Regions from separate parts of the Homo sapiens genome. Here all the other regions are linked to region 1. Evidence: fine-mapped expression QTL. A gene starts in region 1. Each other region holds a variant in brackets. All regions are shown on one strand. Distances are from middle to middle.

Region 1 (4,083 bases):
CTTGGTCTCCGTTTATTTGCCCTCAAACCCACAGTTTGTCTCCCCATAGCAGCCAGATCACACACACTACAACTTCCCAATTGAAGATGCTTTAATGGCTCCCAAAGTCCTTTCTAGAGCCTCTGATGGCAGGGGCTCTGGGAAAGCCCCCAGCCCAGTCCCCTCCCTTGCCCAGATAAACCATGGCCAAAAATGTCCAACAGTGGGCACAGCTTCTAAATGTTCTCCTTTAAGGAGAGGCCTCTGGTGGGCCTACCAAACCTAACTTACAGGGACACCCAGGAGCTAGGCCTGGGCCTTTGCCATTTCCGTTTTTTTTTTTTTTTTTTTTTTTTTTTTTTTGAGGCAGGGTCTTGCTCTGTTATCCAGGCTGGAGTGCAGTCGTACAATCATAGCTCACTGCAGCCTTGAACCCCTGGGCTCAAGCGATCCTCCTACCTCAGCCTCCTATGTAGGACTACAGACCCACGCTATCAGCCCCAACTAACTTTTTAATTTTTTTGTAGAGTTGGGGTCTTGCTATTGTATTGCCCAGGCTGGTCTCAAACTCCTGGCCTTAAGCAAGCTTCCTGCCTCAGCCTCCCAAAGTGCTGGGATTACAGGTGTGAACTACTGCACCCAACCCTTTGTCATCTATCTTTTCTTCACTTGGAGAAAAGTGAGAAAATTAAGACTTAGTGACTATGACAGTTAAGCAACTATCACAACCACCAAGGTCAGGGTCAAGTTCTCTCACCACCCCAGCCCCTGACCCCCAGGACTCAGAGACTTACCTGATTCCACGTAGCAAAGTTGACTTTGTCGGCTGCATTAAAAGCCATGATGTTATATTTTTTGGTTGTATTCCTGGAGTGGATGAGAAGAGGTAGTGTCAATCCAATACAGCAATTCAATCATTAATTTAATCAGTCAATGCTATTGAACCATTAATTCAATCAACCACCCAACTGGATCGTTAATTCAATCAAATCATTACTTTAATTCAATCACTCAATTCAATTGAACCATTAATTCAATTCAATCATTCCATTCAATTGAATCATTAATTCAATTCAATTCACTCAACAAACCCACCCAGCTTCATTCAGCCTGTTTTGCCTGGCAACACTGGATACGGAAGACTCCAAGGATTCCCAGTCTGCCAGAGAAGCTAGACCCATCCTCTCCTGACCCCAGGCAGAAGAAGAGCAGATGGAGGGACGAAGATTTGGGGGAACCCAAGATGTGGAGATTATTGTGAACTCAGCCTTGGGGAGGAGGGAGGACAGGCAGGGAGTATTTCCTGGAGGAGGAAGATACTGGAGTTGAGTTTTGCAGAATCATCAAGAATTCACCCAGCAGAGTCACAGTTTAGGGGTTGAGGGGAGGCACTCATGGCAGAGGAACAGGATGTACAAAGGCCTGGAAAGGAAAGACAGCCTGACCACTTTGAAACAGGACGAGGAATATGTCCTTACAGCTGGCCTGGGCATCATGGGACCATATACTCCTCGAAGGTTAGGCCAGGGGGCTGGATCACCGTGTATTAATGCACTCATTCATTCATTCGTTCAAAAAAGCAGTGTTGTCCCCAGAGAAGCCTCAGCTTAATCCCAGCCCTGCCCTCCAAGTCTCTCCCGGTCTGGAGGGAGAACCACAGACAGGGCCAGAAATGGCTGGCTAAGAAGATCGTGAAGGTTTTCATTTTTGGGGGGTGGAGAGGAGTGGGAGATGGGGCTGGGGACTTACTTAGGAACTCGAACGACGTATTCAGTGACATTCTGGCTGCTAGGGCCCTGCGGAAAGAGGAAGCGGTGAGTGAGGGGTCGCCGAGGTCGCCGTCGGAACCCCCGAACCCCGCCAAATCCACACTCACTAGGGCCGCCATGGGCAATGGTCAGTGGTTCCGATCTGGTCCGACCCGGGTTCCTTTCGTCTCCTCTGGCGTGCGCGTCCCTCGATCCCGGGGAAGCCGCCGCTCGGTGTCGGGTCTCTGTGCCTGAGCGAGGACCCCAACCCTAGGCGCCTCTGGCGCTGGGAAAAGGTAACCGGAAGAGGCGCTCAAGCTACTCGGTCTACGCTTCTGCGGCCGCCTAACCCGGAAGCGAAACCCTCGAGCAGCCGCGTCGCGATGGCAACCTTCTTAGCGACTGTGGCCACCTCAGTGCGCAGTCACTTATGCTCCTCGGCGGCTATGGTCACCTCAAAAGGTCCACCGCGGTCCCTTTTTAGACTCAGCAAACCTAGGCCGAGTCTGAGATAAACTAACGGGCCTCTGTCGCTGGCGCTCTTGTATATAACGCGGTTAACTTCATCAAATGGGGGACCGCCCTCTCTCGTGACGTCAGCACCCAAGGACCGTGGGGCATCCTGGGTGGGAAGAGGGAGACGAATCCCCCTTGCGGGCTCCCAGGCACTTTGCGCATGCGCCTTGCCGCTCTGGACCTGGGGGGCCCAGAAGGCCGCGTCACCATAGCAACCGAGGCCTACTCGGGTCGGGTCGAACCGCCGCTTGGCTCCCCATGGGTCTGTTTGGGGTTCATTTCCTCCCCCTACCCCGAAGGGGTGGACCCCGTCATTCCCGCAAAATGACCGGGGCGGGGACCCTTGTGACGTTGAGCCGAGCCAGGAGGGGTCAGAGCCTGGGCGGGGTCGGGGCGCGACCACCCCAAGAGCTGCTGGCCGGATGGGTCTTTGCAAGTCCAAGCTGCCCGAGATGGGCAGGGCTCTGAGGCCCCAGGAGAAGGGTAACGTCGCGGGGGCGGCTGGCTGGCTTCCTGGGGGGAAGGGAAGGAAGCTGCCGAGAACAGGAGGGAGATGCAGGATCCCCTACCCCGTTCCAGGCATGCACACATCCCCCGAATCATGGCAGTAACACAACTGCGCATGCTCACGGCGCAACCATTCATTGCTCCACTTCGCAAATACTCCAGCACCTCCTGGGTTCGGGGCCCCGCAAGGTGAATCTGTCAAACCAGCTCCCCACGGAGGATTACAGTGTCCTCTCGAGGGTTACAGTGTCGTGGAAGAGACAGAGTCACAGCATGGGAATCTACAACCCAGGAAGGAGCAGGAGAAGCACAGCGGGGCTCTGAGGGCTCAGAGAAGAGGGGAGGTTTCAGTTGGGCACTGAGGGATGCATAGGAGTTGGCTAAGCAAAGGGAAGGCGGGCAAGACACAAAAGTTGGGCCATGAACTACAGACACCGTCGATGTGTCTGTTTTCATTTATTTCTCATCCACCACTAAATGTCAGGAACCGCCAACCCCTAGGAATATAGGAATGAGGGAGGCAGAAATAGTCCTTGCCCTCATGGAGTGTCTGGCTTGGGGGAGACAAGAACGAGTAAACGGCTGGGCACGGTGGCTCATGCCTGTAATCCCAGCACTTTGGGAGGCCGAGGCGGGCGGATCACCTGAGGTTGAGAGTTCGAGACCAGCCTGACCAACGTGGAGAAACCCCGTCTCTACTAAAAATACAAGATTAGCCGGGCGTGGTAGCACATGCCTGTAATCCCAGCTACTCGGGAGGCTGAGACAGGAGAATCGCTTGAACCTGGGAGGCAGAGGTTGTGGTGAGCCGAGATCGCGCCATTGCCCTCCAGTCTGGGCAACAAGAGCGAAACTCCGTCTCAAAAAAAAAAAAAAAAAAAAAAGAAGGAAAAGAAGGAAAAAAAAAGAACGAGTAAACAGAGAAGATCATGACAGACTGTGGCCATTGCTGTGGAGGAAATAGGTGTCTCAGACAAGGAGTGATGGGGGGAAGCTCTAGATGGAGGCTAGAGAAGGCCAGATGGAAGTTGTGGCCAGAAGGAACTGGGGCAGGCAGGGATTTTCCAAGCAGAGGAAACAGCAAGGGAGAAGTGAGTTTCAAATTCAAAGAACTGAAGCCCCCTGGGGCTGGGACAAAGAGAAGGGGAGTATGGGTTGGGGCTGGGACAGAGGGAAGGGGAGTAGGATATGGGGCTGGAACAGAGAGAAGGGGAGTATGGGATGAGACTGGGAGCGTGGGCAAGTCCCTGCCTCTCACTGAACCTCGGTTCCCTCCACTGTAAAATGGGATGATAGAGTCCTCAGGATGCTTTAAGGAGATGCCGTGTGTGAA
Region 2 (4,083 bases), 180 kb before region 1:
TGCTTCCGGAGGCCTTGGAAACGGCAGGAAGGGCCAGACGCCACCACCGAGAGCAGGCGGGGGAGCCCGACCCTCCTCTGGCTGAGTGGAAGGCTGCTCGAGTCGCTGTGTGGATTTTGGGGGACTCCTGCGAAGGAGAAAGGCCAGCACCCTGGGCTGAGGTTCCTGTCCGTGACCCCGGCGGCCTCTTGTGCGTAGAGCTCCCAGCAGCACGGGCCCCCGGTCAGCCCCCCTCAGGCCAGTTCCTTCAGTCCAATGTCTTAGTTTCCAGAGAAGAAAGGAAGCGCCCCATGGTGGAGTATTGTTGGCCGCCCTGGGAAGGGGAGAGGGGGCACAGGGGCCTGCCCTCTTCCTGATACCTGAAGGCAGTGGGGCCGGGAGAGAAACAGAGCAGGTGGCGAGGAGTCCCGGAGGCTTCCTCCGAAGGTTCTCGGGCCTTTCCCCGAGAGTTCTGGGGAGTTTCCCCAGGACAGCTGGCATTGGGGGCAGCCTTGGAGGCATGGGTCCCCACCAAGGAGTGTTCAGGATCTGCTGACAGAATCAGAGCAGGGACAAGATGAGGGACCTCAGGGAGGGACAGATGGAGCCCCCCAAGTCTGAACTCATAGGCTGGGGAGGAGGAGACATCTAGGTGGGTTCGAGGGGGTGCGAGCCCACCTCCAGGCCCTCAGCCCTCTTTTCCTCATAACTTGGTCAGGGCACAAGGACTTGAAAGGACTTGAAAGTCAGGGGGTTGAGAGGACTGGAGGCGCCTCGAGTCAATGTCTGGGAAACAGAGGCTAACCAGGCAGGCCTCCAGCCCCTGGGACCCCCAGCCACGATGGGCTGGCTCCGCGGGAGCGTCCTGGCCCTGGAAGAGTGGGCCGGGAAGGAGGACCGGCTTGGCCCCTGGAGAATCTCAGGCATACCAGGAGTGGGGCTGCGGGCGCGGCACCAGCATGAATTGCGGCGGTGGAGGCCGGGGCGGGCCAGGCCGCGACCAGAGAGAAAGGCAGCCTGGGAGGGCCAGCCCGGCCAACCCACCGGGCCTGCTGATGGCCGAGCCCACGCTCGAGGGGCTGACCAGAGTTCAATGCGCCTCAGAAAACTCCATAAACTATCCCGTCTTATTTGGCAAAAGCTCATATTTTTTTCAAAGTTTGAAGACTTGAATGAAAGAGAGGAAGAGGAGCCTATGGGAGGAGGCCGAGCCCCAGGGCGGCTGATGCGAGTCTGTCCGCGGAGACTGTTGGCGCTAGTCTGAGTAGAGCCCGAGAGCAGACTGGTGGCTCCCGGGCGCCCTGAGGACTCGCTGCCCTTTGTAGTGTTGGCTGACCCCCCCGGGAGCCCCGGTAGGAGGCGGCGGCATCCTTGGAACGGCAAAGGGAGAATTCCTCCATGCGCCTGGAGAGGGCCAGCTGCCGTGCCTGGCTCGGCCTCCAGCCCCACACCACCGCAGAGACATCTTAACCTACAAGCCCCACCGTACGCACCCCCCACCCACCCCACGTGCACTGCTGCCACAGAAACGCACATGGACACTGCTCTTGACCAGACAGTGCACACACATATATAATAGAGAGAACTATACAGCACAGACCCCAGCGCAGCGCGAGCCGGGGAGGAGCCGGCGCTAGGTCTACACGGAGGACGACGCAGACACACAGGCAGGGCCTTCTGAGGTCCAGGGTGGGCGGAGGGTGTGTTCTGAACCATTCGGGAGGCTGGAGATGCCCCCCAGCCGTCGATCCGCTGCTCAGAAAGGCTGGGGCAGCGACGCCGCACAGCCCGCCGAGCAGTGGGGGCTGGTCCCAAGGCTGGGCGAGGGGCCCCCGGC[C/T]CTGTCTCTGCCCAGAGCTGCCTTCAACACCAGCCGCTCTCTGAGGGGAGCCCAGAGAGCCCGGGGGGCGGCTCCCGTGTGGCCCAGCCCGGCCCCAGGGCTCCTGGCGATGGAGCGGGGAGAGTGGGCAGGGAGCCGCCGAGGAAAGTGCAGCGGGCTGTGCGGGCGAGGACAGGGCTGTCGCTAAGGCAGTGCTGCGGGCAGGCGAGACGGGAGAGGAGGGCAGGCGAGGCCTGGCTGCAGCCTCCCAGGACCCCGGCGGTGGGGGCCCGGCACGCGGCCCAGGGTCATGTGGCCACGGCCTCCAGGCAGCTCTGCAGTTTGCGCACGGTGGTCTCGTCCAGGGAGAAGAGGTCGAAGTCGAAGGTGGTGTTGGTGACATTGAAGTGGCCAGTCTCCTCGATCAGATTCACAATCTGTAAGGTGGTGGCAGGTGGCTTCAGGGGCAGGGGGCCAAGGGTGGGGTTGCCCTGTTCCCTAACAGAGGTAGGGGCTCCTGGGGCAGCACCAGGGGCCCCCGCAGCCCACACTCCTCACAGGCACCCCGACCTCTGCCGGGCAGGACCCTCAGGGGGGCGATACCTGCTGCAGCACGTTGCGCTCCCGCAGCGCCATCAGCCTCCGGTGTAGCTCCACCAGCTCATCCGTGTAGGCCTGGGGAGGGGGGGCAGGTCTCAGCAGCGTGTGGGGGCCCTGGACCCTTCCTGCTCCCATGCCCAGCCCCACCCATGACCCAGTCCATCCCAGCACAGGACAGAGGTAGCCACATCCAAACCAAGGAAGGCCCAAGGCTGCAGGGGCAGCCCCTCAGCTCCAAGGCCACACCGGGAGGGGAGGAAGGACTGTCCCTGCTCCTGCCCAGGAAGAGTCCAACTGTGGGGTGTTGGGGGGCTCTGGGGTCCTCCACTGGCTGCAACTCCCACCACCCACCCCTCCGTAGCCTCCCCGCCTTGTCGTAGGTGCCCCCCCACCTTGTCGTAGGTGCCCTTCTTGAGGATCTTCTCAGGCTTGCTGCAGGACTCGGGGCTCCTCCGGCCTGACACCTGCAGGGAACCCAGGTCTCTGCTGAGCTGTGGCCCACACCCTCCCCAGCCCCGAAGGCCCCACAAACCCTCCTAGGACAGCCCGGCCCAGGGCTAAGCCCGGCCTCTGGTGCACCCCCTGCCTGCAGGCCCCAGGCTCACCTTGCTGTTGGGCGGGGGTGGCTTCTGGGGGGGTGGGGGCTCACGGCTGGGCAGGGAGGAGTCGGCGCTGTTGTCACTCTCGCTGTCGCTGAAGCTCAACCTGAACCGACACACGGGGGCGCATCAGGCCCCTGCCGCCACCACGGCCCCCACCCCACCCCCAGGCTCAAGCCTCTGCCCCGCACGGAGTCGGTGCCTGAGCCCACACACCCCCAACAGCTCCATTCACCTCTGCGCAGGAACCTCAACTTAAAAATACTGTGTGTGGCCACCAAGAGGAAAGAACCCCAAGGAAACCAGGCCACCCAGAGGCCCTTTGGGGGCCGCCCGAGCAGGCCAAGAGTGCTCCGGGATACCCGGGACACAAAGCCCCCCAGCCAATGGGCCTTGCTGGGCTGTGGTCCTCTGACTTGGTTCTGTGGCTTTAACAAGGGGAGGAGGAGCTGCCTGCTGAAAACCTGCCCTCTTCTCCCAGCACTGCCCTAGGGCTTCCATGGCCGCCCGTCCCTCCGATGCTCCCCTGGCCGCCTGACCCTGGTTTGCTCTGGACAGCAGGCCTCCATCAGTCACATCGGCCCCCCTGACCCTAGAGGGTGTGGTCCTAAACAGGGGTATCTGGTGGTGGGGAGAGGTCCAAGCTCTCAACCTCCCCTACCCTGGGGGGCAGGTCTTTGACCTCTGCCTCAGTTTCCCCATCTGTGAAAGGAGGCTGCTATGACCACACACAGAGCCTGGGCCCATTTTTCTCTCACTCTGCGTGCCTGGGGTCCCGCTCTGCCAGGGATATTTTGGGCTTGATCCAGTGAGAGGGGCCCCTGACAACCATCACTTCACAACACGTTTAAAACACAGCAAACCCCAGGCCTCCTAGTGAACAAGGAGGTGCCAGAAGCGGCTCGAGCACACCGGACTTCCCGGTGGGCAGCACAGCCATTGTCCCTGTTCCTGGCCTGCTCCTGCCCCGGCGCAGGCTCCGTTCATCTCTTAAACTTGCCCCTCAGTGGCCTCAGGCTGGGGCCACTCTCTGCAGCTGCCTCCCGGCTCTGGCAGCTCCAGGTCTGGCTCACGTTGCCCAGGCGACGC
Region 3 (4,083 bases), 32 kb before region 1:
AGCCAGATGTGGTGACATGCACCTCTAGTCCTAGCTACTTGGGAGGCTGAGGTGAGAGGATAGCTTGAGCCCAGAGGTTCAAGGCTGCAGTGAGCTCTGATCACACCACTGTGCTCCAGCCTGGGTGACAGAGCGAGACACTGACTCAAAACAAAAAAAGAGTCTACCGCTTACTGCTTGGTAAACTTCTTATACATCAAAATCCACTTCAGGAGTCTCTCTGAATCTGCTGTGATTTTTTTTTTTTTTTTGAGATAGAGTTTTGCTCTTGTTGCCCAGGCTGGAGTACAGTGGTGTGATCTCGGCTCTCTGCAACCTCTGCCTCCTGGGTTCAAGTGATTCTCCTGACTCAGCCTCCCAAGTAGCTGGGATTACAGGCATTCACCACCATGCCGAGATAATTTTGTATTTTTAATAGAGACGGAGTTTCACTGTGTTGGTCAGGCTGGTCTCAAACCCCTGTCCTTAGGTGATCCACATGTCTTGGGCTCCCAAAGTGCTGGGATTGCAGGCATGAGCCACCACAACACCTCGCCTGAATCTGCTGTGATTCGAAGGACTGCCCCGGGAAAAAAAAGAAAAAAACACTTCAAGTAGACTCCCATGTGGGAGGACCTGAAGACTTCTCAGACTTCCATGGTCCCTGATCTAACACAGCAATAAATCATTCAAACTGAGCACTTTTTACACATTTTTGGACCCTTTCTGAGGACTTTCTGCACAAACCTAGGAGGTAGGTTATCATTATCCCCACTCTGCAGATGCCTCCAAAGCCCTCTACCTACCTCCTTTATCACCTCTTCATCTCTTGGTTCAATGTGTATTTAATGAGCACCTACTGTGTGTCAGGCACTATTCTAGACTTTGGGGATGAAGCAGTGGGCACCTCTTAGATAGTGACATTGAACTGAATGATGAAAAAGAATCTGGCTTGAGAAGGTGTGGCAAAAAAGAGAAGTCCCAACATTACCAGCAATCTTCCTACTTCCACCATTTTGCCCATTCTTTTTCCTCTGCTGGAAATGCCTTTCCCCAGCTAACAAACTCCTACTTATCCTGCAAAGCCCAATTCCAATACCTGCTTCTCCTAGGAATGCTTTCCGGTCTGATCTCCAGGAAGAATCCACAACACCCTTCTCTGGGCTCCCACAATCTACTCCACAGGTGGCCAAAAAATGAATGAGGAGGTCTCAGTAGAAGTCGGCCACACCAGGCTGGAAGCTCTTCAAGGCCAAGACCCAGGCTAAGTCCTCTCTGGGACCCCTCTTCCAAGATGAGCTGTGGGAACACTGCAGCTTTTTTTTTTTTTTTTGAGACGGTGTCTGGCTCTGTCGCCCAGGCTGGAGTGCAGAGGCGCCATCTCAGCTCACTGCAAGCTCCACCTCCCAGGTTCACACCATTTTCCTGCCTCAGTCTCCTGAGTAGCTGGGACTACAGGTGCCCGTCACCTCGCCCGGCTAATTTTTTGTATTTTTAGTAGAGACGCGGTTTCACCGTGTTAGCCAGGATGGTTTCGATCTCCTGACCTCGTGATCCGCCCACCTCAGCCTCCCAAAGTGCTAAGATTACAGGCGTGAGCCACTGTGCCCGGCCCTGCAGCTATTTTTAAAATAAGGAATAAGTGGGGTGTGGTGGCTCATGCCTGTAGTCCCAGCACTTTGGGAGGCAAAGGTGGGAGGATCACTTGAGGCCAGGAGTTTGAGACCAGCCTGGGCGACA[T/C]AGTAAGACCCCATCTCTAATACATATATATATATATTTGCCAGATGTGGTAGCACACAACTGTAGTCCCAGCTACTCTGGAGAGCAAGGTGGGAGGGAGGGTTGCTTGGGCCCAGAAATTTGAGGCCACATTGAGCTAGGATGGCGCCACTGCACTCCAGCCTGGGCCACAGAGTGAGATTCTGTCTCAAAAAAATAAAAATAAATAAAGCAGAAACAGTAGAAAACGAAGACGAGGCCGGGCGCGGTGGCTCACGCCTGTAATCCCAGTACTTTGGGAGGCCGAGGTGGGAAGATCACGAGGTCAGGAGTTCAAGACCAGCCTGGCCAAGGTGAAACCCATCTCTACTAAAAATAACAAAATTAACCGGGTGCAGTGGTGTGCATCTGTAATCCCAGCTACTGGGGCAGCTGAGCCAGGAGAATGGCTTGAACCCAGAAGGCAGAGGTTGCAGTGACCCAACATCGTGCCACCGCACTCCAGCCTGGGTGACAGAGCAAGACTCCGTCTCAAAAAAAAAAAAAAAAGAAGACGAATTGGTCGGTAAGGGGACTCGAACTGGAGACTCTAAAACTTCTCCAGCCCTGCCCACTCAATTTACTTCATTGGCTCCTCCCTTTCAGGCTCCGTCCCTATCCCCGCCTCACCCTTAATGGCGCCCGCCCAGACTCCTGGAAGTGAGCGGCCTAGCGAGCGAGCTCCCAGGCGCAAAGCACGCCGGAAGCTGTAGTTCCGCCATCGGACGGAAGCCGACCGGGGCGTGCGGAGGGATGTGGCCCGGAATATTGGTAGGGGGGGCCCGGGTGGCGTCATGCAGGTACCCCGCGCTGGGGCCTCGCCTCGCCGCTCACTTTCCAGCGCAGCGGCCGCCGCAGCGGACACTCCAGAACGGCCTGGCCCTGCAGCGGTGCCTGCACGCGACGGCGACCCGGGCTCTCCCGCTCATTCCCATCGTGGTGGAGCAGACGGTACGGCGGCCGGGCGGGGACACGGTTCGGGGGCTCCGGGCTGGGTGGGGATCGGCTGGCTGCCCCGGCCCCTCACCTCCATCTTTCTACCCCCAGGGTCGCGGCGAGCGCGCCTATGACATCTACTCGCGGCTGCTGCGGGAGCGCATCGTGTGCGTCATGGGCCCGGTGAGCGCCCCGCGCCGGGACCCTCCCCAGGACTCTCCCAAGCGCCTGCCGACACTCCCTGCGCCCCTCCTTCCCTGGCCCCAGACTTTCCCTCAGGCTCCGCTCCCCTTCTAACCCCCTTCCCTCCCCTTCTGACTCCCCTCCTGGCTCCCGGTCCCCCAACCCGCTCCTCACCCCTTCTCTGCTCCTCGGCTCTTAATCTCCGACTTCCTTCCTGACACCTGGCACCGCTCCCCTCATTCCTACGCTCAAGACTCTCCCCAGCCATTCTCACCCCTTCCTTTCCTGTGTCCCTAGCCCCCTGACTCCCCCCTTCCTGTGCTCCAAACCCCCTGGGTCCTCTCCACTACTCTCTCCCCATCCCCTTCTGGGGCCTAAATTCTTCCCCATCCCTTTTACTTTGGGCTCTGGTCCCCCTTCCTGGTTCCCTGACCCATCCCCAGCCTCCCTTAAAACTCTCTCCCCACCCCGAATCTGGGGACACCCCTGCCCTCTCCACCTGCAGATCGATGACAGCGTTGCCAGCCTTGTTATCGCACAGCTCCTCTTCCTGCAATCCGAGAGCAACAAGAAGCCCATCCACATGTACATCAACAGCCCTGGTGAGCAGGGTCTTTCCTGGGTGCCAGGGGCACTCGTCAGGGCACACGGGTGACTCAGGGGACCAGAATCCCGGGTCAGGGATGTTCTCTCTCTGGGAAAGGGTGCAGAGCGTCAGAGTTCCAGAAGTGGCTTTAAACCACCAAAAGGTGCCTGTTGCTGGCTTTTGAGCCTCGGTTCACAAGTCAGGATGTGGCCTCTTTGATCCTGCACATACTGTTCTGCCAACCTGACCCGGCTGACATTTAAAAATTGGTAGATTTTAGGCCGGGCACAGTGGCTCACACCGGTAATCCCAACACTTTGGGAGGCTGAGGCGGGCGGATTGCTCGAGCTCAGGAGTTCAAGACCAGCCTGGGTAACGTAGTGAGACCCCATCTCTACAAAAAAAGTACAAAGATTAGCCGGGCAATGTGGCGTGTGCCTGTAGTCCCAGCAACTCGGAAGGCTGAGGGAGAAGGATCACTTGAGCCCAGGAGGTCGAGGCTGTAGTGAGCCCATCTCAAAAATAATCATAATTGGTAGATTTTTTCCCCCTCCCCAAAAAAAGTAGTCAATTTTGATTGAGCACTTATGATGGAGGCATTTTTTTTTTTTTTTATTGAGATGGAGTCTCGTTCTGTCACC
Region 4 (4,083 bases), 100 kb before region 1:
ACTGCACCCAGCTCCTATCTCTTCTTTATATACAACATTAAATTTCTGTGCGCACGCGTGTGTGTGTGTGTGTGTGTGTGTGTGTGTTTGAGACAGAGCCTTGCTCTGTCGCCCAGGCTGGAGTGCAGTGGTGTGATCTTATCTCACTGCAACATCTGCCTCCAAAGTAGTTGGGATTTCAGGCATGCACCACCATGCCTGGCTAATTTTTGTATTTTAATAGAGATGGGGTTTCACCATGTTGGGCAGGCTTGTCTTGAACACCTGACCTCAGGTCATCCACCTGCCTCGCCCTCCCAAAGGGCTGGGATTACAGGTATGAGCCACCGCATCCAGCCTACAATGTTAAATGTTAAGAATGTTGCTGCAAAACAGAGAAATTACTGGATAGAATGAGCATTTGGCTTAGTCATCAAAAGTATAAAATGGAAGGTTAAGAGTAGCACAGATGAGCAAAGTGTGCCTTGGTATCTGTACATAATTTTGTGGGAAAAATGTTATTGTCATTTCCTTGGTTGCCATCTTGGTGCAAGGCACCTTGAGGCACAGAACAGAAGCATGGCCTCAGGAAGGAAGCTTTTCTGTAAACACAAGGGCAAATAAATGGTCCAAGGTCCCATACATGCAGGCCTTCTTTGCCTTGCAGGGTAATCTGGACCTTTGCCAACATTGTAGGATTGATTCAGCTGTCCTAATGGCCTTCTCAGGAGAAGCTGCAAGGGGTAATCCCAGAGAAATAGGGAAGCATACCCCAGAGGTACCTCCAGCAGGGGAATCAATCCCCTCAACTCCTCCCTATCCAGGTTCTCTCTCAAGCTTGCCCCGGCATAGTAATCCTTGTTTAAGGCAGGTCCCAGTCTCAACTGCCCAAAAACAGATGCCTGGTGAATATGGTCCCATTGAAGTTCAGTTTTCCTTTTCTCTATAGAACTTAAGGCAAATTTAAGGGGAGATCTTGGCAAGTTTTCAGATGGCCCTCACAGGTATATAGAGAGTTTCCAGAACTTAACCCAAGTATTTGAGCTCTCCTGGAAAGATGTCATGTTACTCTTGTTTTTGTTTTTGTTTGAGATGGGGTCTCACTCTGTCATCCAGGCTGGAGTGCAGTGGCACTCTCTTGGCTCACTGCAACCTCCACCTCCCAGGTTCAAGTGATTCTCCTGCCGCAGCCTCCCAAGTAGCTGGGACTACAGGCATGCACCACCACACTGGCTAATTTTTATATTTTTAGTAGACATGGGGTTTTACCATATTGGCCAGGCTGGTCTCAAACTCTTGACCTCAAGTGATCTGCCCACCTTGGTATCCCAAAGTGCTGGAATTACAGCCATGAGCTGCACCCGGCTTCATGTTACTTTTGAATCAAACCCTGACCACCACTGAAAAGCAGGCCACCCTGAAAGTGGCACAGAATTTTGGGGATGAGCTTTATATCTTATATAGGGCCAGGGAAGGGGATGAGACTTATCTGATTGGAAGAATAGCAGTACCACTGAAGAACCCTAAATGGGACCTCAATGATGAGACAAAAGAATGGGGCCAGGCGTGGTGGCTCACACCTGTAATCCCAGAACTTTGGGAGGCTGAGATGGGCGGATCATGAAGTCAGGAGATCAAGACCATCTTGCCCAACATGGTGAAACCCCATCTCTACTAAAATACAAAAAAAATAGCCAGGCATGGTGGTGCACACCTGTAGTCCCAGCTACTTGGGAGGCTGAGGCAGGGAATCACTTGAGCCTGGGAGGCAGAGATTGCAGTGAGCTGAGATCATGCCACTGCACTCCAGCCTGATGACAGAGCAAGACTCTGTCTCAAAAAAAAAAAAAAAAAAGAAAATGGAAAAGGAGGCCAGGCACGGTGGCTCACACCTGTAATCCCAGCACTTTGGAAGGCCGAGGTGGGCAGATCACGAGGTCGGGAGTTCTAGACCAGCCTGACCAACATGGTGAAACCCCATCTCTACTAAAAATACAAAA[A/G]TGAATTAGCCAGATGTGGTGGCACATGCCTGTAATCCCAGCTACTCAGGAGGCTGAGGCAGGAGAATAACTTGAACTTGGGAGGTGGAGGTTGCAGTGAGCCGAGATCATGCCACTGCACTCCAGCCTCGGCGACAGAGCAAGACACCATCTCAAAAAAAAAAAAAAGAATGGAAGAGGAAACACTTTCAGGTGTGCATACCAGAGGGCATACGAAGGACTAGGACAAAGCCTCTCAATTACACTAAGCTATCCATGGTAGACAGGGATTAAGCGTGAGTCCCACTGCCTTCCTGGAAAGGCTAAGAGAGGCCTTGGTAAAACACACCTAAGTCCTGATTGAGGAGAGGGACATCTGATCCTAGAGGATGAGTTTATGACACAGTCAGGCCCTGATGTCAGGAGGGAGCTTCAGAAACAGGCTGCAGGGCCAGATGGTACTTTGGAGGGCCTCCTGGGAGTGGTCACCTTAGACTTTGCTGTGGGAACTTGGAGGAAGTCCAGAAAAGAGAGAGGAGATACGGAAAAAAAGGCAAAAGCTCTAATACCTGCCCTGAAGCTTCACGGACTCCATAGTCCCTGAGATGCACCCGTTGTCTGCTGCAAATGTGGCAGGCCAGGCCACTTCAGGAGAGACTGTCTGGGCAGTGCGGGGAGGCCACCTCAACCCTGTCTGGTTTGCAGTGGGAACCATTGTAGGGGCAGCCTGTCCCTGGAGACACAGGTTGCCGGGTCCAGGACCAGACTTCCAGATGGTCCAGAAGGACAGATGGATTCTAGGGCTCCTTTCCCAAGCTCTGATGGTTCAGACCACTATTACCATCCAGGAGCCCTGGGTTGAAGGGAGGAAGGTAGCCACCTCCTGGACTCTGGAGCAGGCCTTTCAGTTCTCCTCCCCAACCCAGGCCCCCTTCCTCTCTTAGCACGACTGTAAGCAGCATCTCAGGTCTTCTTCCCCACCACGCCAGGAGTCAACATAGTCTTGTGACTACAGGGAGCTTTTCTCTGTGGGGTTACTTTTGTTTCCGTTAGGGAGTGTATTAGTTCGTTTTCATGTTGCTGATAAAGACATACCCAAGCCTGGGAAGGAAAATAGGTTTAACGGACTCACAGTTCCACATCATGAGGAGATTCTCCAGAGTCTGAGGGTCAAAGGCGTTCCAGTGATTTATTTATTTATTTATTTTTTAAGACAGAGACACGCTCTGTCACCCAGGCTGGAGTACTGTGGCACAATCTCAACTCACTGCAACCTCACAATCATGGCAGAAGGAGAAAGGCACTTCTTACATGGCAGAAGCAAGAGAGAATGAGGAAGAAGTGAAAGCAGAAACCCTTTATGAAACCATCAGATCTCATGAGACTTATTCACTACCATGAGAACAGTATGGGGGAAACCATCCCCATGATTCAATGACCTCCCACTGAGTCTCTCCCACAACATGTGGGAATTATGAGAGTATAATTTAAGATGAGATTTGGGTGGAGACACAGAGCCAAACTGTATCAGGGAGGCACCTTATTAGGTCAGGTCCCCAATTTCTGGGACTCCCTTTCTCTCCCTTGTTTGAGGAGGACCTGGCCTCACGGCTTCACCTGCTTATGATAGAGAGGCAGTAGAGGAGCAGCCCCCTCCAGTTGCTATCTGCAATTTGGCGAGGGCCACATGGGACTAATTTAATGGGTCCATAGACCCATCTGAGTCACCTTTTTTGTCCCAAGCTTCACTTTAAAGTCCTGAAATGGGACATTAGACCTGAGGCAGATGACAGCAGGAGTTGAGAGGCACAGCCCAGGTGAGCATGACTAATTCCTGCCAGTTAGCCCTCCTGCTTCATGGATGGAAGCATAGATAAGGTCTAGGGAACCCAAAGGTTACCAACAGCAGAAGGATAGGGTGGTATGTAGGTAAGTGCGAATATTCCTACCCACTAGGCCTTCCCGCTGCATGGGTGAAGGTTGCACTCGCAGCTATGAGTGGCACCTGCAAAGGTCACTGGGACTCAAGGATATAAGGTTGGAAGAGGAAAAAGAGATGCCTTTTTAAAAAAATCTCCATCACGTACCCCAGGTATTCACTGGAAAGAGAGGAACAAAGGGATGT
Region 5 (4,083 bases), 24 kb before region 1:
GGGGTTTCAGGGGTGCTGGCATTATTCCATCTCTTGGTCTGGGTGCTGGTCCTGTAGGGTATGTTCAGTCTGAAAATCCATCCCACCAGACATTTACGAATCATGCCCTTTCCTGGGTGTATATTATACATCAATAACAATTTTTTTTTTTTTTTGAGATGGAGTCTTGCTTTGTTGCCCAGGCTGGAGTGCAGTGGTGCAGTCTCCACCTCCCAGATTTAAGTGATTCTCATACCTCAGCCTCCCTAGTAGCTGGGATTACAGGCGTGTGCCACCACACCTGGCTCATTTTTGTATTTTTAGTAGAGACAGGGTTTCACCATGTTGGCCATGGTGAAACTTTGAAGGCCAATGGTGAAACATGAGGCCAAACTCCTGGCCTCAAGTGGTCCACCCACCTCTGCCTCCCAAAGTGCTGGGATTACAAGTGTGAGCCACCGTGCCTGGCCCAATAACAATTTTTTAAAAAACAAAATTGAAATTGGTATTTTACTGATACCTAGGGGAAACTGAGGCACTGCAGAATGAGGACATGTCTCAGTCAGCTTGAGCTGCTTAACAAAACACCACAGACCTCAACAGAGATTTATGTCTCACAGTTCTGGGGGCTGGGAAGTCCAAGGTCAGGGTGCCAGCTGATTCGGTTCTTGGTGAGTGCTCTCTTCCTGGCTTGCAGACGGCCGCCTTCTCGCTGTGTCTTCACATGGTGGAGAGAGAGCAAGTGCACTGGTGTCTCCTCTTATAAGGCCACTAATCCCATCAAGGGGCCCCTGACCCCATCTCTCCTAATGACTTCCCAAGGACCCCATCTCCAAATCCCATCCCACTAGGGGATGGGGCTTCAACATATGAACTTGGGGTGGTGGGCACAAACATTCAGGCCAAAACAGGACCCAGACCTGGCCCTGGGTCTCTGCTCTTACCCTAATGTGTCTCACCTCCTGCTTCCCCACCAGAGTCCGCCATGGAGAGGGACCGCTACATGAGCCCCATGGAGGCCCAGGAGTTTGGCATCTTAGACAAGGTTCTGGTCCACCCTCCCCAGGACGGTGAGGATGAGCCCACGCTGGTGCAGAAGGAGCCTGTAGAAGCAGCGCCGGCAGCAGAACCTGTCCCAGCTAGCACCTGAGAGCTGGGCCTCCTCTCCAGAATCATGTGGAGGGGCCAGAGGCCTGCCAGACCCCCAGCTGGGCCCTGCTCACCCCTTGTTGCTGGGCTTGGAGGGGCCTCTTGAGGAACTTTTAATTTGCAGGGGTGCCCGCTATGGACGGGGCATTCCAGCTGAGACACTGTGATTTTAAATTAAATCTTTGTGGTCTTTGCTCTGCGTCTGGGACACCCTCCCTTCTGCACCATGACAGCGTGTACACATCTGTGTTTCACAGGCCCCTTCTGCTTTTGTCCTGACCCCAAGAGGCAAGCCATGTCTTCCTTCAACAGATTCTCCTGATCATATCCTATATTCCAGGCAGTGTTCTTTTGTGAAGAAGACACAAGAAACCCTCCTCAAAAGAGCTCCATTCTTGTGGCAGTAGACAGTTACTAAAAAAAACAAAACAGGCCAGGCGCGCTGGCTCACGCCTGTAATCCCAGCACTTTGGGAGCCCGAGGCAGGCGGATCATGAGGTCAGGAGATCGAGAACATCCTGGCTAACATGGTGAAACCCCATTTCTACTAAAAATACAAAAATTAGCCGAGCGTGGTGCACCTGTAATCCCAGCTACTCCGGAGGCTGAGGCAGAAGAATTGCTTGAACTTAGGAGGTGGAGGTTGCAGTGAGCAGGATCACGCCACTGCCCTTTAGCCTGGGCAACAGAGCAAGGCTCTGTCTCAAAAAAAAAAAAAAACAAAAACAGGAAAGGTGGCATGCAAGTGTGAGGGTAAGCGTGTTACAGTTTTTTATGGGGTAATCAGGGAAGCCCTCACTGAGAAGGTGGTGGTTGAGCAAAGCCTCAAAGGAGGTGAGGGGTGGAGCCTGTGTCCAGGCAGAGGGCACAGCCAGTGCAAAGGCCCTGTGACAGGACTGTACCTGGCATGTGAGGACCTATGAGGAGGCCCGTGGCTGAGGGAAGGTGGAAGAGAGGAGATCAAAAAGTAGAGGTGAAAATTAGCCAG[G/T]CGTGATGGTGCACTTGAACCCGGGAGGCAGAGGTTGCAGTGAGCCAAGATCACGCCACTGCACTCCAGCCTGGGCAACAAAGCGAGATTCTGTCTCCAAAAAAAAAAAAGTGGAGGTGATTGAGAATAGATCATAAAAGGCCTGACATCTAAAAGGAGGGATGTGAACCATGGAGGGTTTTGAGAAGAGGAAGGAAAATAAGGATGACTATGACTCCTGAGGAGTGCACCATGAGCAGAAACTGGAGAGCAGTTAGGATAGTTGGAGTAATCTAGACGAAAGCTGATGGCAGCCCTGGCCGAGTGATGAGAAAAAGTCAGATTCTAGCTAGGTGGGATGTGACAGAGAGCAGTTTCCAGAAACTCCGAGCTGATGGCCCAAAGCAGGAAGATGGAGACCTGTCGCCTGAGATGGGAAGTGTAGGCAAAGGAACAGGCTTGGGGAGGGATCAGGAGTTGATTTTGGATATATTATACCTGATGTTTTGATATGTCCCTCGACATCAGGGTCAAGAGGTTGAAATAAAAACGTAGGTGTCATCGGCCGGGCGCGGTGGCTCACGCCTGTAATCCCAGCACTCTGGGAGACCGAGGCGGGCGGATCACGAGGTCAGGAGATCAAGACCATCCTGGCTAACAGTGAAACCCCGTGTCTACTAAAAATACAAAAAATTAGCTGGGCGTGGTGGCAGGCGCCTGTAGTCCCAGCTACTCGGGAGGCTGAGGCGGCAGAATGGCGTGAACCTGGGAAGCGGAGCTTGCAGTGAGCGGAGCTTGCAGTGAGCGGAGATCGCGCCACTGCACTCCAGCCTGGGCGACAAAGCGAGACTCTGTCTCAAAAAAAACAAAATGTAGGCGGCATCAGCATGTAGGCTCATTAACAGTCAGACTGAGACCTGGCTATTGGATTCGGCATTGTGGATGTCACTGGTGGCCTTAAATCAGGCCTTTTCTGGTGCTGTGGGAGCCAAAAGCCAGGCTGGAGTGGATCCAGAAAGGATAGGAGGAAACATATCAGACATAGACAAGTCTTTCGAGGAATTACACTATCAAGGGGAGCAGAGGGTGGGGGGGCAGATGTAGCTGGAGGGAGAAATGGGGTCAATATTTTTCAAAATGCAAGCATTCGGGCCGGGGTCGGGGGGGCGCTACGCTCAGCAGTTACAGTGTTGCAGTTTGCATTATGCACATTTAAAATACATACAAAAGTACCCAGAGCTTTGAGAGGCTGAGGGGAGAGGATCACCTGAGCCCAAGAGTTCCAGGCTGCAGTGAGCTATGATCGTGCCCTTGCACTCCAGCCTGGGCAATAGAGGGAGAAAATAATAAAATAAAGGCCGGGCATGGTGGCTCAGGCCTATAATCCCAGCACTTTGGGAGGCCGAGGCAGACGGGTCACCTGAGATCAGGAGTTTGAGATCAGCCTGGCCAATGTGGTGAAACCCTGTCTCTACTAAAAATACAAAAAATTAGCCGGGCGTGGTGGCAGGCGCCTGTAGTCCCAGCTACTCGGGAGGCTGAGGCAGGAGAATGGTGTGAACCCGGGAGGCAGAGCTTGCAGTGAGCCAAGATCCCGCCACTGCACTTCAGCCTGGGTGACAGAGCGAGACTGTGTGTCAAAAAAAAAAAAACCCAAAAACCAAAAAAATAAAAAACAAAAATTAGTTGGGCGTGGTGGCAGCTTCCCGTAATCCCAGCTACTCGGGAGGCTGAGGCAGGAGAATCGCTTGAACCCGGAAGGCAGAGGTTGCAGTGAGCCAAGACCGCACCATTGCACTCCAGCCTGAGTGACAAGAGCGAAATTCGGTCTCAAAAACAAACAAAACAAAAAAGCTGGGCATGATGGTTCGTTGCCTGTAATCCCAGCTACTCGGGAGGCTGAGGCATGAGAATCACTTAAACCCCAGAGGCAGCGGTTGCAAATCTTCAGGGCCTGAGATCGTGCCACTGCGCTCCAGGTTGGGCGA
Region 6 (4,083 bases), 85 kb after region 1:
TTGTTATCTGAGTCCCTGTGTTCCTAGGTCCCTGGGTATTCGGGTCCCTGGGTCCTCAGATCTCTGAGTCCCTGAGTCCCTGGGTCCCTGGGTCCCTGGATTCCCACGTGTATAAGTCCCTAGTTCTCAGTGTCCCTGAGGGTCCGGAGGGGTGGAGCCAGACGTGTTGCGGCCCATAGTGGGTGGAGCCTGAGCACAGTACTCCCAAAAAGGAGGAGCTGCAGCGCAGCCCCCTCCCACGAGGGCGGGGCCAGAGTTCAACTCTCCAAGACCTTCGAAGGGGCGGGGCCAGGACTTCGCCCTCGGGTCTCGCGCAGTAGGGTTAGAGCCAGGAATCAGCCCCCTTGTCCCGCCCCCCGGGGCGGAGCCAGGCCCTGCTCCCACCCCGGCCCGGCGGACCCCGCCTCACGGTGCTGAGTTTGCTGGCGGTGAGCAGGACTCTTCTCTCGGCCAGGAGCGCCGCGAACAGCCCCACGATGTTCTCGTCAGTCACGGCCACCACCAGCTCCGTTAGGTTCCTCTGAGGATCAGAGAGTCGCTCTGGGCGTGGACGGGCCCCTGGATCTTGCATCCCCGGTCCGGGTTTCGGGACCTGTTCTCACCCCCAGAGACCCCTCCCCACTCACGTTCTCAGGGATGGATGGCAGGCGGCCGGAGTCCGGGGCCACGAAGCAGGAAAGCTGGTGGGGGTATTGGCAGGGGGATCAATCAGTCAGGAGGCTGGCCTCACCTGGACCCCCGACCTTCCAGGGTCCCCGAGCCCCGCTCACCGGCTTGCTATTCCCCCGGGTAGGGGGGGGGATACCCTGCCCGCTGGAGACCGTCACTCCGCTGCCCTGGGGAAGAGGCACGACTCTGTGGTCATGATGGCTGGGACGCAGCCTTCCCATCCACCTAAGGTCCAGCGCCCAGGGAATGGGAGCTACTCACCAGCTCAAGCCCCACTGAGGCCTGGGGCCCAGACAGGGACTGCTGAAACAGATTTTGAAGAAGTTCCTCTGCCTCGGTGACCTGGGTGGGACGTGGAGGGGCGGGGGTGGCTGAGCCAGATGTGGGGATTGGGGATTCCGAGGGCTATGACTAAGGTTGAGTGGTCTGGGAGGAGCCAAGGGCTCAGGTCAGTCCTGGGAGTTTTTTTTTTTCTTTCTTTAAAAGAAATTAATAATAATAATAATAATAATAATAGAGACAAAGTCTCCCTATGTTGCCCAGGCTGGTCTTGAACTCCTGGGCTCAAGGGATCCTGCTGCTTCGGCCTCCCAAAGGGCTACAATTACAGGCGTGAGCCACCGCGCCCGGCTTTTTAAATTTTTTAATTTAAATTTTTCCTTGTAGGCCGGGCGCGGTGGCTCGCGCCTGTAATCCCAACCCTTTGGGAGGCTGAGGCATGCGGATCACCTGAGGCCAGGAGTCCGTGTCCAGCCTGGCCAACATAGTGAAAACACGTCTCTGTTAAAAGTACAAAAAAAAAAAAAAAAATTAGCCGGGCTGGTGGGCCGCGCCTATAGTCCCAGCTACTTGGGAGACTGAGGCGGAAGAATCGCCTGAACCCGGAATGCGGAGGTTGCAGTGAGGCGGAATCGCACCACCGCACTCCAGCCTGGGCGACAGAGGAAGACTCCATCTAAAAGAAATTTTTTTTCTTGAGACAGGGTCTTGCTCTGTCCCCCAGGCTGGAGTGCAGTGCTGCGATCATAGCTCACTATAGCTTCGAACTCCTGGGCTCAGTTGATCCTCCCACCTTGCTCTCCTGAGTAGCTGGGACCACAGGTGTGCACCACCACGCCTGGCTAATTTTTTATTTTTATTTTTTGAGACGGAGTTTCGCTCCTGTTGCCCAAGCTGGAGTGCAATGGCGCGATCTCGGCTCACTGCCACTTCCGCCTCCCGGGTTCAAGCGATTCTCCTGCCGCAGCCTCTGAGCAGCTGGGATTACAGGCGTGTGCCACGACGGCCGGCTA[A/ATT]TTTTTTTTTTTTTTTTTTGTATTTTTAGTAGAGACGGGGCTTCACCATGTCGGTCAGGCCGGTCTCGAACTCCTGACCTCAGGTGATCCGCTCGCCTTGTCCTCCCAAAGTGCTGGGATTACAGGCGTGAGCCACAGCACTTGGCCAATTATTTTTTATATTTTGTAGAGACGGGGGTCTCACTATGTTGCCCAGCTGGTCTCGAACTCCAGGGCTCAAGGGATCCTCCCACCTCGGCCTCCCAAAATGCAGGGACTACAGGTGTGACACAGTGTGCCCTGCCAAGCCTGGGAGATCTGAGAGGGAGGGGTTGGGAGGTTGAGGGGGGTGGGGGCTGGGACTCCCACAGGAGTGAGAGAGGGGCTGGTCTCACTTGGTCCTGGGCTAGGAGGTCTCCCACTGTGTTCAATAGCTTGTAAAACACCTCGAACCAAGGCAGGTGGCTGTGGAGAGAGGAGACAGGTTCCACGAAGTGTCCCTAGGCCTCGGCCTTTCCCATCCCCCCCTCCAACCCCCATATCCCGCACCTGAGGATGCAGAGACAGCTCTGGGTACCCGCCCGCAGGCGGCAGAAACCAAATCTGCGGTTGCCGGCAAGGTCTGTGAGGGCGAAGGTGAAATGCTGCACGGCGGGGCTGGGGGGCTCCCTGGAGTGGGAAGGGCTGTTAGAGAGACCTGGACATCCCAGCTGTCTGAGGATGTCCCCGCTCCCCAACAAAGCTCCTAGGACCCTGAGTGTATGGGTCTCTAGTTGTCAGGATCCCTGAATGTCTGGATCCCTGGGTCTCAGAATCCCTGGGTCCCTGAATCTCTGGGTCCCTGGATCTCTGGGTCCCTGAGTCCCTGGGTCCCTGGATCTCTGGGTTTCTGGATCTCTGGGTCCTTGAATCCCTAAGTCCCTGGGTTCCTCAGTCCCTGAGTCCCTGAGTCCCTGAGTCCCTGGTCCCTGAGTTTCTGAGTCTCTGGGTTCCGAAGTCCCTGAATCCTTGTGTCCCTGAGTCCTTGAGTCTCTGAGTCCCTGGGTCCCTGGGTCCCTGGGTTCCTGAGTCCCTAGATCTCTGGGTCCCTGAGTGTCTGAGTCCCTGGATGCTAATGTATATAGGTCCCTAGTTCTCAGGGCCCCTGAGTGTCTGAGTCTCTGAGTCTCAGGGTCCTCGAGTGTATGGGTTTCCAGATGTCTGAGTCTCTAGGTGTTGAGTCCTTGGGGCCCCTGAGAGATCTGAGTCCCTGAGTCCTTGGATCTCCCCGCCCTTCCGTACCTTTCCACATCAAAAGGGAAGCAGAATTTAGGCACCATCTGCATAGCTTCCTGGAGGTGAAGAAAAGCGCAGACTGCTTGGCCACTGAGGTCGGGCACCACCTCCCTGGGCTCCAGGTCCAAGAAACCAAGTCCCCTCCCCCTGGGAGACTGGCCCTCGCCCTGGGGGAGCAAGGAGCCAGCCTGAATACCTGGTCCCTGAAGTCTGGAGGGAACTGCCGCAGGATGGGGGGATCTGTAGAAGAGAGCACGCCTCTAAGTTCAGCGACCCAGGCCCACCCTCCCCTCCCACTCCCTCACTCCCAGGCTCCCAACTCACCCTCCTGCAGGGAGGCAGGGCAGGCCGCTTCGAAGAACCAATCAAACACAGCAGGGGAGCCCCCTCTGTGGGATGCAGAAGGGGTCCAGAGACTTGCTTCTATGCATGTGTGGTTGTGTCTGCCACTTTGCACACAAGTGTGGTTGTGTGTGCATGTGCCACAAGGTGCGTCGGCATGTGCATGACTCTGGGGGTTTGTGGCTGTGAGTGTGTGGTTGTGTGAGGCTGTGTGTGCAGCAGTGTTAATTGAACACACAAGTACAGGATGGAGTGAGAAAGTGTGACTGTGTGTGTGTGGCTGTGTATGATTGTGTGTGGCTGAGTGCATGGCTTTTGTGAGCAGGCAGTGTGTGTGTGATCCTGTCTGCTGTCTGCCTGAAAAGATGAGACTGTCTCCTATATCTGTGGCATGAGACTGCACAGATATGAAGGACAGCCCGTGCAGTCCCAAGCTAAGTGAATTACATCTCTCTCTCTCTATATATATATCCATCTATCTGTCTGTCTGTCTGTCTCTGTCTATCCATCCATCCATCCATCCACC

What was found. PIP is the estimated chance that this variant, and not a neighbour inherited with it, causes the effect.
Region 2: its variant is fine-mapped to the expression of GTF2F1 in whole blood (INTERVAL, PIP above 0.99).
Region 3: its variant is fine-mapped to the expression of GTF2F1 in breast (GTEx, PIP above 0.99). The same link has a PIP of 0.9 or more in skeletal muscle.
Region 4: its variant is fine-mapped to the expression of GTF2F1 in esophagus muscle (GTEx, PIP above 0.99). The same link has a PIP of 0.9 or more in cerebellar hemisphere.
Region 5: its variant is fine-mapped to the expression of GTF2F1 in subcutaneous fat (GTEx, PIP above 0.99). The same link has a PIP of 0.9 or more in esophagus mucosa, pancreas, sigmoid colon, tibial nerve, transverse colon and visceral fat.
Region 6: its variant is fine-mapped to the expression of GTF2F1 in whole blood (INTERVAL, PIP above 0.99).

Annotation. Positions count from the first base shown.
Region 1 is chr19:6,391,129-6,395,211 of GRCh38, forward strand. It overlaps GTF2F1 (general transcription factor IIF subunit 1), which reads right to left and starts at 2,036. Exons shown (of 13, transcript NM_002096.3): 1 at 1,856-2,036; 2 at 1,729-1,775; 3 at 774-846. The coding sequence starts at 1,867. MIR6790 (microRNA 6790) reads right to left here and starts at 1,855; the gene lies at 1,793-1,855. It also overlaps the pseudogene LOC390877.
Region 2 is chr19:6,210,939-6,215,021 of GRCh38, forward strand. MLLT1 (MLLT1 super elongation complex subunit) reads right to left here. Exons shown (of 12, transcript NM_005934.4): 9 at 3,001-3,100; 10 at 2,788-2,859; 11 at 2,399-2,470; 12 at 1-2,232. The coding sequence ends at 2,104. Among named protein-coding and RNA genes, the nearest start is that of MLLT1, 67 kb to the right of the region's middle. The variant C/T (reference allele first, on the strand shown) is at 1,817.
Region 3 is chr19:6,359,085-6,363,167 of GRCh38, forward strand. CLPP (caseinolytic mitochondrial matrix peptidase proteolytic subunit) reads left to right here and starts at 2,447. Exons shown (of 6, transcript NM_006012.4): 1 at 2,447-2,688; 2 at 2,785-2,856; 3 at 3,362-3,458. The coding sequence starts at 2,491. It also overlaps a transcript of ACER1 not described here. RefSeq lists a silencer at 2,694-2,923 and an enhancer at 3,122-4,079. The variant T/C (reference allele first, on the strand shown) is at 1,720.
Region 4 is chr19:6,288,310-6,292,392 of GRCh38, forward strand. No RefSeq gene overlaps it. Among named protein-coding and RNA genes, the nearest start is that of MLLT1, 10 kb to the left of the region's middle. The variant A/G (reference allele first, on the strand shown) is at 1,980.
Region 5 is chr19:6,367,582-6,371,664 of GRCh38, forward strand. CLPP (caseinolytic mitochondrial matrix peptidase proteolytic subunit) reads left to right here. Exons shown (of 6, transcript NM_006012.4): 6 at 957-2,661. The coding sequence ends at 1,129. Among named protein-coding and RNA genes, the nearest start is that of ALKBH7, 3.2 kb to the right of the region's middle. The variant G/T (reference allele first, on the strand shown) is at 2,117.
Region 6 is chr19:6,476,448-6,480,530 of GRCh38, forward strand. DENND1C (DENN domain containing 1C) reads right to left here. Exons shown (of 23, transcript NM_024898.4): 2 at 3,540-3,604; 3 at 3,412-3,455; 4 at 3,222-3,271; 5 at 2,490-2,609; 6 at 2,336-2,405; 7 at 931-1,011; 8 at 771-836; 9 at 627-680; 10 at 410-520. Among named protein-coding and RNA genes, the nearest start is that of DENND1C, 3.3 kb to the right of the region's middle. RefSeq lists an enhancer at 3,435-3,934. The variant A/ATT (reference allele first, on the strand shown) is at 1,962.